Linked DNA regions of Homo sapiens. The protein of the gene in region 2 binds, or shares a complex with, the protein of the main gene of each other region. Each region holds a gene or a part of one and is shown on either strand. Other genes may lie near its edges. The genes, in order: RAET1L and KLRC4-KLRK1. A codon is read from its position in the direction of its gene.

What was found.
Region 1: the proteins of KLRC4-KLRK1 (region 2) and RAET1L are in contact, whole or in part, in a crystal structure (PDB 4S0U), measured with the Homo sapiens proteins. Residues at the interface, in NP_001186734.1 of Homo sapiens: Lys150, Ser151, Tyr152, Ile182, Met184, Lys186, Leu191, Lys197, Tyr199, Glu201, Asn207; in NP_570970.2 of Homo sapiens: Val93 (codon at 4,349), Glu103 (codon at 4,319), Glu154 (codon at 3,373), Asp177 (codon at 3,304), Met180 (codon at 3,295), Ser181 (codon at 3,292), His183 (codon at 3,286), Tyr184 (codon at 3,283), Ile185 (codon at 3,280), Met187 (codon at 3,274), Gly188 (codon at 3,271), Asp189 (codon at 3,268).

What each region holds. Positions count from the first base shown.
Region 1 is NC_000006.12:150,017,704-150,022,693, forward strand, and holds the end of RAET1L (UL16-binding protein 6 precursor), read right to left. Parts: intron 4,541-4,990; coding exon 4,277-4,540; intron 3,484-4,276; coding exon 3,202-3,483; intron 2,537-3,201; coding exon 2,427-2,536; 3' UTR 2,405-2,426; intron 1,153-2,404; 3' UTR 631-1,152; downstream 1-630. UniProt on the Homo sapiens protein: Binds and activates the KLRK1/NKG2D receptor, mediating natural killer cell cytotoxicity.
Region 2 is NC_000012.12:10,379,117-10,386,407, forward strand, and holds part of KLRC4-KLRK1 (NKG2-D type II integral membrane protein), read right to left. Parts: intron 721-7,291; exon of another isoform or gene 677-720; coding exon 584-676; intron 367-583; coding exon 331-366; intron 1-330. Other genes in the region: KLRK1 (NKG2-D type II integral membrane protein), read right to left, coding at 331-366, 584-676.

The DNA.
Region 1 (4,990 bases), on a different chromosome or scaffold from region 2:
ACATATATGGTGAAAGGTAGAGGTTCAGTTTCGTTCTCCTACACATGGCTAGCCAGTTATCCCAGCACCATTTATTGAATTAGGACTCTTTCCTCATTGCTTTTTTTGTTGATTTTGTTGAAAGTTAAAAGGTGTGAAGGTTTCTTTCTGAGCTGTCTATTCTGTTCCACTGATCTAAGTGTCTATTTTGGTACCAGTACCATTCTGTTTTGATCACTGTAGCCTTATATTATAGTTTGAAGTCAGGCTATGTGGTGTCTCTGGCTTTGTTCTTTTTGCTTATGATTGTTTTGGCTATTTGGGCTCTTTTTTAACTCCAAAGAACTTTTAGATTAGATTTGTCTAATTTTGTGGAAAATGACATTGGTATTGATAGAGATAGTGTTGCATCTATAAATTGCTTTTGGAAGTATGGCCATTTTAGCTATATTGATTCTCCAACCCATGAGCATGAAATATTTTTCCATGTATTTGTTTTGTCTCTGATTTTTTTCAGCCATGTTTTGTAGATTCTCTTTTTCCACACAAAGTCTGGCAGAATCACTCATTTATTACTCCATATCATGGAGGAAAAATGAAATAACATTAATTCTCTACTGAGTAATACAACAAAATTCTAAACTCAGTAGGTTTTTGGGAAATATAACTCTTTATTTAAATATCAGTACACAGCAATAAATTACTAAAGGAAACAATCATTAATATAAATTTTTTTCTTATTAAATAATTAAACAATTCTCTTTCAGGACATGGAAAGAATCCCTGGAGGTCTGAAGTCTAACATGATTGTTTTACTGACAATCATGTCAGTAATGAAAGAAAGAAATCATCATTCAAAGAAGTACTTGATTTTCCAAACAAAAAGAGAAGAAAGAAAATGTTGACATATCTTGTTTAGTCAGCCAGAACTTTAAGTGCAGGAATTCCATCAGGTAGCACCAAGAGAAAATTGCATAATATGTTAGGAATAATCACTGGTTAAATTGTTGGCAAAAGGAATCAAGGCAGTGAATGAGCTATTGGGTCCATGGTGTCATCATCATCTGCTGGAGGCTGCTGGACATACACCGTAGGTGGTGGGCAGCTGGCCAGACAGAAGGGCGAGGTTGATCAAGACCGTGCTCACAGGGGCTTTTTGGTATCATCTTTAACCTTCAGAAAGGACCCAAATGTTGGTTTAAGAGGCAGAGAACCCGGATCACTTTTCCACGGTAATCTTTCCCTAGTCACTCTATGTCTCAGAGCCCCCTGCACTAAGGGACCTATTTTTCCCTTGAGCCCCAACCCTGGCGACTGCAGCTTGGACCTACCTCTTTCCTCCTTTGTCACATCACAGAGTCAGCCCAGGCCCTGCACCTGACCAGGGGATGGAGTGGAGGGGCCCACAGGTCTGAAGCTGGTAGTGATGGGTCCGCTCCCTCACTCAAGGCCCTCTTTATCATCTGATGACAGGGTCTAAAACATGGCAAGGGGTGGGACAGACTTCCAAAGAGAGGGCTCTGTATTCCTGTGCCCTTGGCCTTTGGTGGGCCTGCAGGCAAACATCCTTCTTTCCCCTTCTTCTTGAGCATCACCTCACACTGGGAGCAGCACCCATAGTTCTGAAGGTGACTGTCCCTGTTCCACCTTTTCCATTCCTTATCCAGCCCAGTGGTGCCCGTGGAACCCCAGCAGCAGCTCAGATGCTCCTTCCTCTGAGTCCACTCTGCTCCTGGCAGGGCTATGACTGGGCTCAGGATCTGGGGTGTGCAGGAGTGTGATGGCAGGGGAGCTGCCTCAGGGCCCAGACTCAAACCCCACGGGTACATGGGACTGACTTTTTAAAAATCCTTCTCTTGAGCAGCCTCTACTCTTCACCTTCCACCTACTTTCTGTGGGAAGGCAGCCCTGCACTCCCTCCTTTTCAATTAGGTGTACCAAGGCTCTCCCAGCCCCCTCCTCCTGGGATTACACCCAGATCTCTCTTAGCCTCAGAGATGGAATCCCCCTTCCCCTGTCACACCTCATGTAAAGCTACCATGATGCACCTAACCCAATTAAGAGGACTGCCCATGTCTGAATTCCTGCTGCCTGCAGGCCACACACCCTTCCTGAATAGGAACCTGCTCTGAATCAGGCCTGAACTTGCTAAACCTTCTCAAGCTCAACAGACCCTGAGCCTTGGTATGGGCCCCTCCCTTTCCCTCTGGACTCTGAAGGTGAGAAACCATCAGAACTCAGGGCTGAGCTGCCCAGGTCATTGCCAACATTGCCAACAGGCAACACAAGGTCTCATTCACCTGTCTCATGTTAGGATGAGAAGGTCCCAGCCACGGGGAGGGGCGGGACTCCGGGAATTCTCTTTCCCCATCCTGCCTCCTCACCCACCTGCTCCTTGCTCCACTTCCAATTCTGCCCACAGTACCTGTCACTCTAAAGGACTCTCCTCAGATGCCAGGGAGGATGAAGCAGGGGAGGATGATGAGGAGGCAGCAAAGGATGAGGGTGGTGGCTGTGGCCCTGAGTTGGGTTGTGCCTGAGGACATGGCGAGTGGTGCTGAAATGGAAACACAAAAGTGACAACCCTTGTCCAGGCCCCAAATCTGAGGAGACACCTCCTCAGTTCCTGCCACCCTAGGTCATCCTGGAAGGCAAAAGTTTTGTCCCCTCCCCCCTGGTGTGGGGCAGCCAGTATGACAGGTCCTGGCTTAGGAAGGGAGACGGGGTGTGTCTTGTCCTCAGGGAGCTCACACAGCTGCTGAGGGAAGCAAGGTGACAACACACCCCACCCTCCTGCTGTGGGGGAAGAGGAGGTGATGCCCCAGAGTTGGGGAGGGGAGGATCTCTGGCTGGTGTTGGAAGTGGTTTTGATGGATTTCCAGAACCAGACCAGGGAAAGGAAAGGAAAAGTGATTCTCAAAAGAGGAAACACTAAGGAAAAAGTTCTGAAAACAGTGACACCTGCAGTTTCAAGGCTGGTGAGAAATCCACAGTGTGGGGAGCAGAAGCAAGTGCAGTGAGGAATAGGAGTCAGGAGGGAGAAGGAAGAGGAGGGTGGGAGGGCACAGGCATGCCAGTAACCCCAGGAGGAGGGCCCGACGAGGAGGTCATTTTAACATAAACGTGTACACTGGGATGATTGAAGCTGAACTCAAGAACTAACTTCTTGAGATCCCCATTTCTGATCTCATTTAAGATCCCCGTTTCTTTTTCTCCTGTTACCTCCTGCACTTGGCTCCAGGGTGCTGTCCATGCCCATCAAGAAGTCCTCAAGCCATCCTATGCAGTCTCCCATTGAGATGTAATGGAAGGACATGGCCACATCCTTGTCATTCTCCCACTTTTCTTTCATCTTTCTGGCTCCAGGATGAACCGTTGTCCACATTCTCTTCTCTGAGTCAAAGAGTAGGAAGGTCTGTCCATCGATACTGAACTGCCAAGATCCACTGCTGTGTCCTTCAGCTTTCTGCTCACAAGACATCCTTGCCTGCAGGGTGAGGGGTTCTGCCCCCATCAGAGAGAGATCAGCTCTGATCTTGACAAATTTTGCACCCCCATCCTGTTCCCCTTACAATTTGCTGGCCTTACTCTCTCTGCTACATCTTGGCCTTGCCTCTAGACTCTTGAGGGGTAAGATGACCTTCCCATTTGTATTTTTTTTTTTTTTTTTGAGAAAGGGTCTCGCTCTGTCACCCAGGCTGGATGGAGTGCAGTGGCGCGATCTCGGCTCACTCAGCCTCCTAAGTAGCTAGGACTACAGGCGCCCGCCACCATACCCGGCTATTTTTTTGTATTTTTAGTACAGACAGGGTTTCACTGTGTTAACCAGGATGGTCTCGATCTCTTGACCTTGTGATCCGCCTACCTCAGCCTCCCAAAATGCTGGGATTACAGGCTTGAGCCACTGCACCTGGCTTTTTTTTTTTTTTTTGAGACAAAGTCTCACTCTGTTGCCCAGGCTGGAGTGCAATGGCACCACCTCGGCTCACTGCAGCGTCTGCCTGCCGGGTTCAAGGGATCCTCCTGCCTCAGCCTCCCAAGTTGCTGGGATTACAGGCATGCGCCACCATGCCTGGCTAATTTTTGCATTTCGGTAGAGACAGTGTTTCACTATGTTGGTCAGGCGGTCTCGAATTCCTGACCTTGTGATCGGCCCACCTCTACCTCACAAAGTGCTGGGACTACAGGCGTGAGCCACCGTGCCCAGGACCCTTTTGTATTTTTACATGAAAACTATAAATGCCTCTAACCTACCACTGTATCTGCTCCCTGCTGTCCTGGGCCATCTGAAACTTACCCTTGGGTGTGTAATTCTCCAGCTGAATGTCAAGCAGTTGCTCTGTAAGTATGTCCACCACCTCTCTCAGTACTGGGTTCTGTGCTTTCCAGGCCATTGTGACATTTAGTTTCTTCCCCAGGGGACTGACGGGTGTGACTGTCTTGTTGCCACAGTCATAGTGAAGAAAAGTCTTTTCATCCACCTGGCCTTGAACCGCACACCACCGTGGTCCAGGTCTGAACTTAGGGATGACGGTGATGTCATAGCAAAGAGAGTGAGGGTCTGTGGAGAAAGGCAGGTGAGGGGTGGGTGGGGAGGAAAAGACCCCTAGTTAGCCCCCCTCCACGCTGTGTCAATAAGAGGATGCCTCTGGCAGGCTGGGCTGGCCCAGGAAGGAGTGCCCCCTCCAGAACTGTGGTGTCTACAAGTTTAAGGCGAGTGCTCGCCCCTTGCATGAGGACAAGGAGGAGGAGGAGGAGGAAGTCTCTGTCTGCTGAGAAACCACATGTCCCCAGACATGTCCCACTGCCCCTCTGCCCACATCAGTCAACACATGACCTTGCTAGAAAGGTGCCAGGCCTCTCTAGCAAGAGAGGAGGAAGGGCCTGGATGGCAGAGGATCTTCAGCAGTAGCCCACGTGGACTGCGGGAGGTGGGAGAGGGTGTGGGTCCACCCCTGTGGATGCTGGTGCTGGTTGAACAGAGTGAGGATGGAACCCCGTTGGATAAAGA
Region 2 (7,291 bases):
AGGCATGAGAATTGCTTGAAACTGGGAGGCGAAGGTTGCATTGTGCTGAGATCACCCCACTGCACTCCAGCCTGGGTGACAGAGTGAGACCCCATCTCAAAAAAAAAAAAAAAAAAAAGAGAGAGAGAGAGAGAAAGATGATGTCAAACCTAAGTAGCCTCTACTTTTTACAAGTATTCCCTCATTGTTAAAAGGAAAACAGAAGCCATAGTGTATTACAGACTAGAATTAATTACTTTTTCCTTTTTTAATCATGGAATACATGTCTACACAATAATGTAGGTAGATACATATAATATATGATCTAAAATATTTTAAAAATTCACTTACCGGTCAAGGGAATTTGAACTTCTTGGTTGAATAATGCTATTAAAATAACCATAAGTATTAAAAGTTTGTATTGTTAGTAACTTATAGTATAAGCAAATATAGTTTACAAATTTCTGGACTAATAGCAAAAATGTGACAAAGATACATTTAATATTTCTAGTTTATGTGTCTGTGTTTATGAATACTAACAAAAATAATACATTAGCATTGTTAAATTGACAATGTTGCAATCTACTTCTCTGTTGTCACTTACAGTTTAGGAATACAGCACTCCATATTGTTACCATAATAATGAAACGGATTCCCATGGCTACAGCGATGAAGCAGCAGAAAAAAAATGGAGATGCTGTCAAAGAAAAAAGACACAGATCAGAGAAAGAAGCATAAAAGGTTTGGGTATCTTTGTATTTAATATAAATATTAGAGTTTTTTAAATGAGAAGGTGGTATTGATCCTTTTTCTGCCTTAATAATTTTTTCCAGAACAGAACATAAATACCTCGCAAATGATCAAAAACTAGAGTACAACAATGTAATATTTCCTTCTATACTTCTCTACAAGTTCCCCAGTCATCCCTAGAGTAAATTATGCTTATGATTTTTTGTTGTTATTGTTTTTTTTTTTTTTTTTTTTTTTTGAGACGGAGTCTCGCTCTGTCGCCCAGGCTGGAGTGCAGTGGCGCGATCTCGGCTCACTGCAAGCTCCACCTCCTGGGTTCACGCCATTCTCCTGCCTCACCCTCCCGAGTAGCTGGGACTACAGGTGCCCGCCACCACTCCCAGCTAATGTTCTGTATTTTTAGTAGAGATAGGGTTTCACCGTGTTAGCCAGGACGGTCTCGATCTCCTGACCTCGTGATCCGCCCGCCTCGGCCTCCCAAAGTGCTGGGATTACAGGCGTGAGCCACCGCACCCGGCCGTGATTTATTATTTTTATGCAGATACAATAATAAACATAAAGAAGGAGGAAGCATCATCAAGATGGCTAACTACAGGCACCCAGCACTCACTTCCACAAAGGACCAAAACAACAAGTAGATAACCACACATTGAATAGAGTGTTGAAGGGAGAAGGCTGGAATTCAGCAAGAAAGTGACCAAGTCTCTCTGAGGCACAGATGCTCAGGGCGATAGCATAGAAAGGGAAGAGAAGCAGGTGACATGGATCAGCTTGGAGCCAAGAGGGACTCTCCACTGAGGAGAAAAGGTAAACAGGAGCTCCCCAGCAGTCCACATTCCCATTATAAATACCTGCTATCCTAGGTATAGGAGAGCTCCACATTCCTCACGATCCCTGAGTCCAGTATAGGGAGTTCACTGACATCCACATAACTGCATTATTCCAGAGTGGGAATTCACACTGGGGTCCCTCCTCTTCTCTGGAACACAGGCTGCAGCAGCACTGCACCATTTTGAGAGTGTAGCCACCACCAAAGTACGCTCTGCCCTGGGGCCTAATAGTTCCTTTATCTTCGCATGTTTGGGGCCCAATAGCTTATGCATCTTCACATCCCTGGGGCCCTGCTGACATTCCACCAAATCCACCTAGAGGACTGTAGCATAGCCACACCAGGTGATCCCAACCAAAGGTGTAGTCATGACCCTTGCATCAAGCCTATACAGAGCCCTATGCCCAGGGAACAGGAGATGCAGCCAAGCACAGAGTCTGTCCTCAGCATAGAGAGAGTCATGCATGCGCCCCCCCAGATTCCCAGAGCCACTCACTTGGAGCCCAGTGCCACCACTGCCAGCAATCCCACTTTCTCCAGCAGCAGGCCAGAAAAGCATGGGATGATATATTCAAAATGCCAAAAAAAAAAAATACCTCCTCCCAAACAAGAATACTGTATTAAGCGAAACTATCCTTTAGAAATAAAGGAGAAATACTCTTCCAGACAAGCAAAAACTGAGGGAATTCATCACCACTAGACTAGCCCCACAAGAGATGCTTAAGGGAGTCCTATATCTGGAAGCAAAAGGACAATATCTATCATCATAAAAATACACAAAAGTATAAAACTGGTTGGTAGAGCAGATACACAAATAAGAAAGAGAAAGGAATCAAACATTATGGCTACAGAGAACCACCAAACCACAAAGATAAATAATGATAGAGGAGAAAAAAATCAATGGGTAGGCAAAACAACAGGTATATCAGAAAACAATTAAGAAAATGGCAGAAGAGCAAGCTGGCTGTGAAGAACCCTTTAGTGATTATCTTCTCACAGAAACATCAAATTAAATAATTATCCATGCAAGAAAATACCTTCAAAAGAATTCAAGAAATTAGGTGCGCTATCACAGTACCCTGATTTTAGCATGATAACGAGAAAAAACACATTAAAGAGGTAAGAAAAGATGGTCTTGCCTTGCCTAAACGCCTCTCTTCCAAACCCAGATAGTGCAGTGCTTAGAGAAAAACTGCCTGCTTGGGAAATGGAAATAAGAGTGTGGGACTTTGTGTCGGAACTTAGACCTGGCCCCACCACATTGGAACACAGCAAAAGACAGAGACCCCATGGCCCTTGATTCCAAACCAGTGCTCATATGGGGAGCATTTTGACCCACCGTGGGCCAGAGGTGAATCCACTGCTTAGGCAGGAAGAACCTTAGTCTCAGCCCACTTTATCACCAGCTGACTAAAGTGGCCTTGGTCCCAAGAAAATTTCAGTGGTTGCAGGCCATAGCAACCATGGCCCTTGGGCAAGCCCTGGCACAGCACTGGTCTGGGAGGCTGTGGACAAACAGAAAACTTTCCAAACCCAGAGAAAGATATGAATAACCAAATACCGGAAGGTCAAAGATTAGCAAGCAGATTCAACCCAAATGAGATCACCACAAGACATATAAAATTTAAATGTTCAAAGCTCCAGACAAAGTGAGAATTTTAAAGGAAGCAAAATTTAAAAAGCAAAATAAATATAAAGAAGCTTCAACACATCTGTTAGCAGACTTCTTAGCAGAAACTTTATAGGCCAAGAGGAAGTGGGGTGACATATTCAAAGACCCAAGGAAAACAAAATGCCAACTGAGATACCGTACCCAGCAAAACTATCGACATGATGGAGAGAAAAAGTATTTCTCAGGCAAACAGAAGTTGAGTGAATTTATTACCACCAGACCTGTCTTACATGATATGCTAAAGAGAGTTTTTTCAGTCAGAAAAAAAAGAACACAAATGTGCAATAAGAAAACATTTGAATGTATAAAACTCACTGATAAAAGTAAGTACACAGACAAATTCAGAATATTCTAATACTGTAATTGTGGTGCCTCAACCACTCAGATCTTATGAAGACCAAAAGACAACTCTATCAAAATAATAGTAATTACAATTTATTAAGAGATAGTCAATATAAAATGATGTAAATCCATACAAACATAAGTCAACATGTGAGAGGAGATGGAGTTAAAGTGTAGAGTTGTTTAGTTTTTTCTTTTGTTGTTTTGTTTTTCTTTGCTTTGTGATCAAAGTTAAGCTGTCATCAGTATAAAATAATTGCTATAAGCTATAAGATGTCCTTGTAAGTCTCACAGTAACCACAAAACAAAAACCTATAATAGATACACTAAAATGAAAATCAAGGAATTAAAATACACTGCCAGAGAAAGCAACTTAATCACAAAGGAAGACAGGAAGAAAGGAAGACTTACAAAACCACTAGAAAACAAGGAACAAAATGGCAATAGTAAGTTCTTACATACCAATAATAATATTAAATGCAAGGGGGCTAAATTCTCCAAGTAAAAGACATAGAGTGACTGAATGGATTAAAAACAAAAAAAACCAAACAATATATTGCCTACAAGAAACCCACTTTGCTCATAAAAACACACATAGACTGACTGTATAGGGATGAAAACAGATATTCCATGAAAATGAAAACCAGTAAAGAGCAGGCACAGCTATACTTAGATAAAATAGACTTTAAGTCAAAAAGAGTAAAAAAGAGTCAAAGAAGACCATTATATAATGACAAATGGGTCACTTCAGCAATATAATATAGTATTTATAAGTATACATATGCACCCAATATTACAGCACTCAGATATATTAAGTAAATATTAATAGATCTGAAGGGAGAAATAGATGAATACAATAAGGGCAGGGGAGTTCAACAACACATTTTAAGCAATGGACAGATCATTCAGGCAGAAAATCATAAAAGAAACATCAGAGTAAAACTATAATATAGACCTAATGAACCTAACTAAATGTACAGAACATTTCATCCAACTGCTGCAAAATACACATTCTTCTTATCAGCACATGGAACATTCATCAGGACAGACCATATGCTAGGTGATAAGTCTCAAAACATTTCCAAAAGTCAATATTATATCAAGTAAATTTTCTGACAACAATGGAATAAAACTAGAAATTGATAACGAGGAACTTTGGAAACTGCACAGATACATGAAAATTAAACAACATGCCTTTGAACAAATAAACAAATTCAGTAAAGTTTCAGGATCAAAAATCTGCATACAAAAATCAGTAGTGTTTCTATACACCAATAACAAACTGGATGAAAAAGAAATCAAGAAGTCAATTCCATTTGTAATACCTACAAATAATAAAATACCCTGGAATAAATTTAATCACACAAGTGAAAGACCTCTACAATGAAAACTGTAAAATACTGATGAATGAAACCAAAGAGGATGCAAAAAAATGGAAAGACATCTCATGTTCATAGACAGAAAGAATATTGTTAAAGTAATCATATGACTCAAAGCAATCTACAGATTCAGTGCAATTCCTAACACGATACCAGTAACATTCTCTACAGAAATAGAAAAATATCTTAAAATTTATATGGTACCACAAAAGACTGAATAGCCAAAGCAATCTTGAACAAAAATGAAGAAAACTGGTGGCATCACGTTACCTGACTTCAATATATACGACAAAACTACAACAACCAAAACAGTATGGCATTGATATAAAAATAGACACCTAGACCAATAAAACAGAATAGACAACCCAGGAATAAATCCATGTATTATAGCCAACTGATTTTTCCAGAAAGTCACCAATAACATACACTGGGAAAGGAGAGCCTCTTCAATAAATGAAGCTGAAAAAACTGGATATCCACATAGAGGAATGAAATTAGACCCTCATCTCACACCATATACAAAAATCAACTCAAAATGGATTAATGACTTAAATATAAGAACTGAATCTATAACACTACTAGAAGAGATAAGAGAAACACCACAGGACATTAGTCTAGGCAAAGATTTTATGGGTAAGAATTCAAAAGTACAGGCAACAAAAGCAAAAAGAAACAAATGAGATTGTATCAAACTAACACACTTCTCTACTGCATAGGAAACAATTGACAGAGTGAAGAGACAACTTGTAGAATAAGAGAAAATACTCGCAAACTATTCCTCTAACAAGAGACCAATATCCAGAATATACAAGGAATTCAAACAACTCAACAGCAACAACAAAAACTGATTTGAAAATGAGCAAAGGATCTGAATAGATATTTCTGAGAAGATATACAAATAGCCACAGATATATTTTTTGAAATTCAACATCATTCATCATCAAGAAGATGAAAATCAAAACCACAATGAATATCATCTCACCCTAGTTAGAATAGCTATTATTTAAAAAGACAAAAAATAACAAATGACAGTGAGGATGCAGGGAAAGGCTAATGTTTATACAATTTTGGTGGGAATGTAAATTAGTATAGCCATTATGGAAACAGTATGGAGGTCCCTTAAAAAACTAAAAATATAACTACCATATGACTCAGCAATCTGGGTCTTTCTCCAATGGAAAGGAAATCAGTATATTGAAGTAACGTCTGCACCCCCATGTTTATTGCAGCATTATTCACAATAGCCAAGATATGGAATTAACCTGTGTCCATTAACAGATAAATAGCTAAGCACACACAGACACACACACACACACACACACACACACAGAGGAATACCATTCAGTCATAAAAAAAAGAATGAAAAGAATGAAATCCTATTATTTGCACCAACATGGATGAGTCAGAAGTACATAATGTTACGTAGAGTAAATCAGGCATGGAAAGATAAATACCACATGTTCTCACTCATATGTAGGAGATACAAACTTTTAGCTCACAGAAGTAGAGAGTAGAATTGTGGTTATTTAAGGCTAGAAAGAATAGGGGGGAGGAGAAGATTGGGAGAGGTTGGTTAATGAATACAAAATTACAGCTACATGCGGGATTTTTCTAGTGTTCTATAGCACTGTAGGGAGAGTACTGTTAAGAGTAATTTATTGTATATTTTCAGATAGCTAGAAGAGAAGGTTTTGAATGTTCCCAACACAAAGAAGTGATAAATGTTGAGGTGATGGGTGTGCTAATTACCTTGATTTGGTCATTAGACATTGTATAGTTGAATGGAAATATCACTGTATCCCATAAATATGTATAATTATTACATGCCAACTAAAAATAAACAAAAATTACCGTTCCCCTTAACTACATATTAAAAATACATTTTAAAGAAACTATAATACACAAAATATCCTATGAATTTTTTTTTTTTTTTTACCTAAGACAATATCCTGGTGATTAGTCCTCATGGCGTATAAGGATACCAAATTTATAAATAGCTGCATTGTATTTCACTGACAACTCTGGACAGATCTAATTTTTGACGGACTGTCAATTTTTTTTTCCAGTGGATATTTAAATTGTTTCTTAGGTCTTGCTATGAGAAATAATGATACATTTCATACCCATCTGTGCATATTTTTGAGTCTCTCTCTGGGATAAATTCCCACAATGATAATTGTTGAGGGAAAGGGCATGTGTGTTTTAAATTTTGGTAACAATTGAATATTTTAGTCCAAAAAGGGATTTTTACATATAGCACTTTGCATTCCTTAAATTAATTCTTGTAAAGAGATGCTATTTGTTAATAATTTGTTTCTTAGTTTTTAATAAAAATTGATA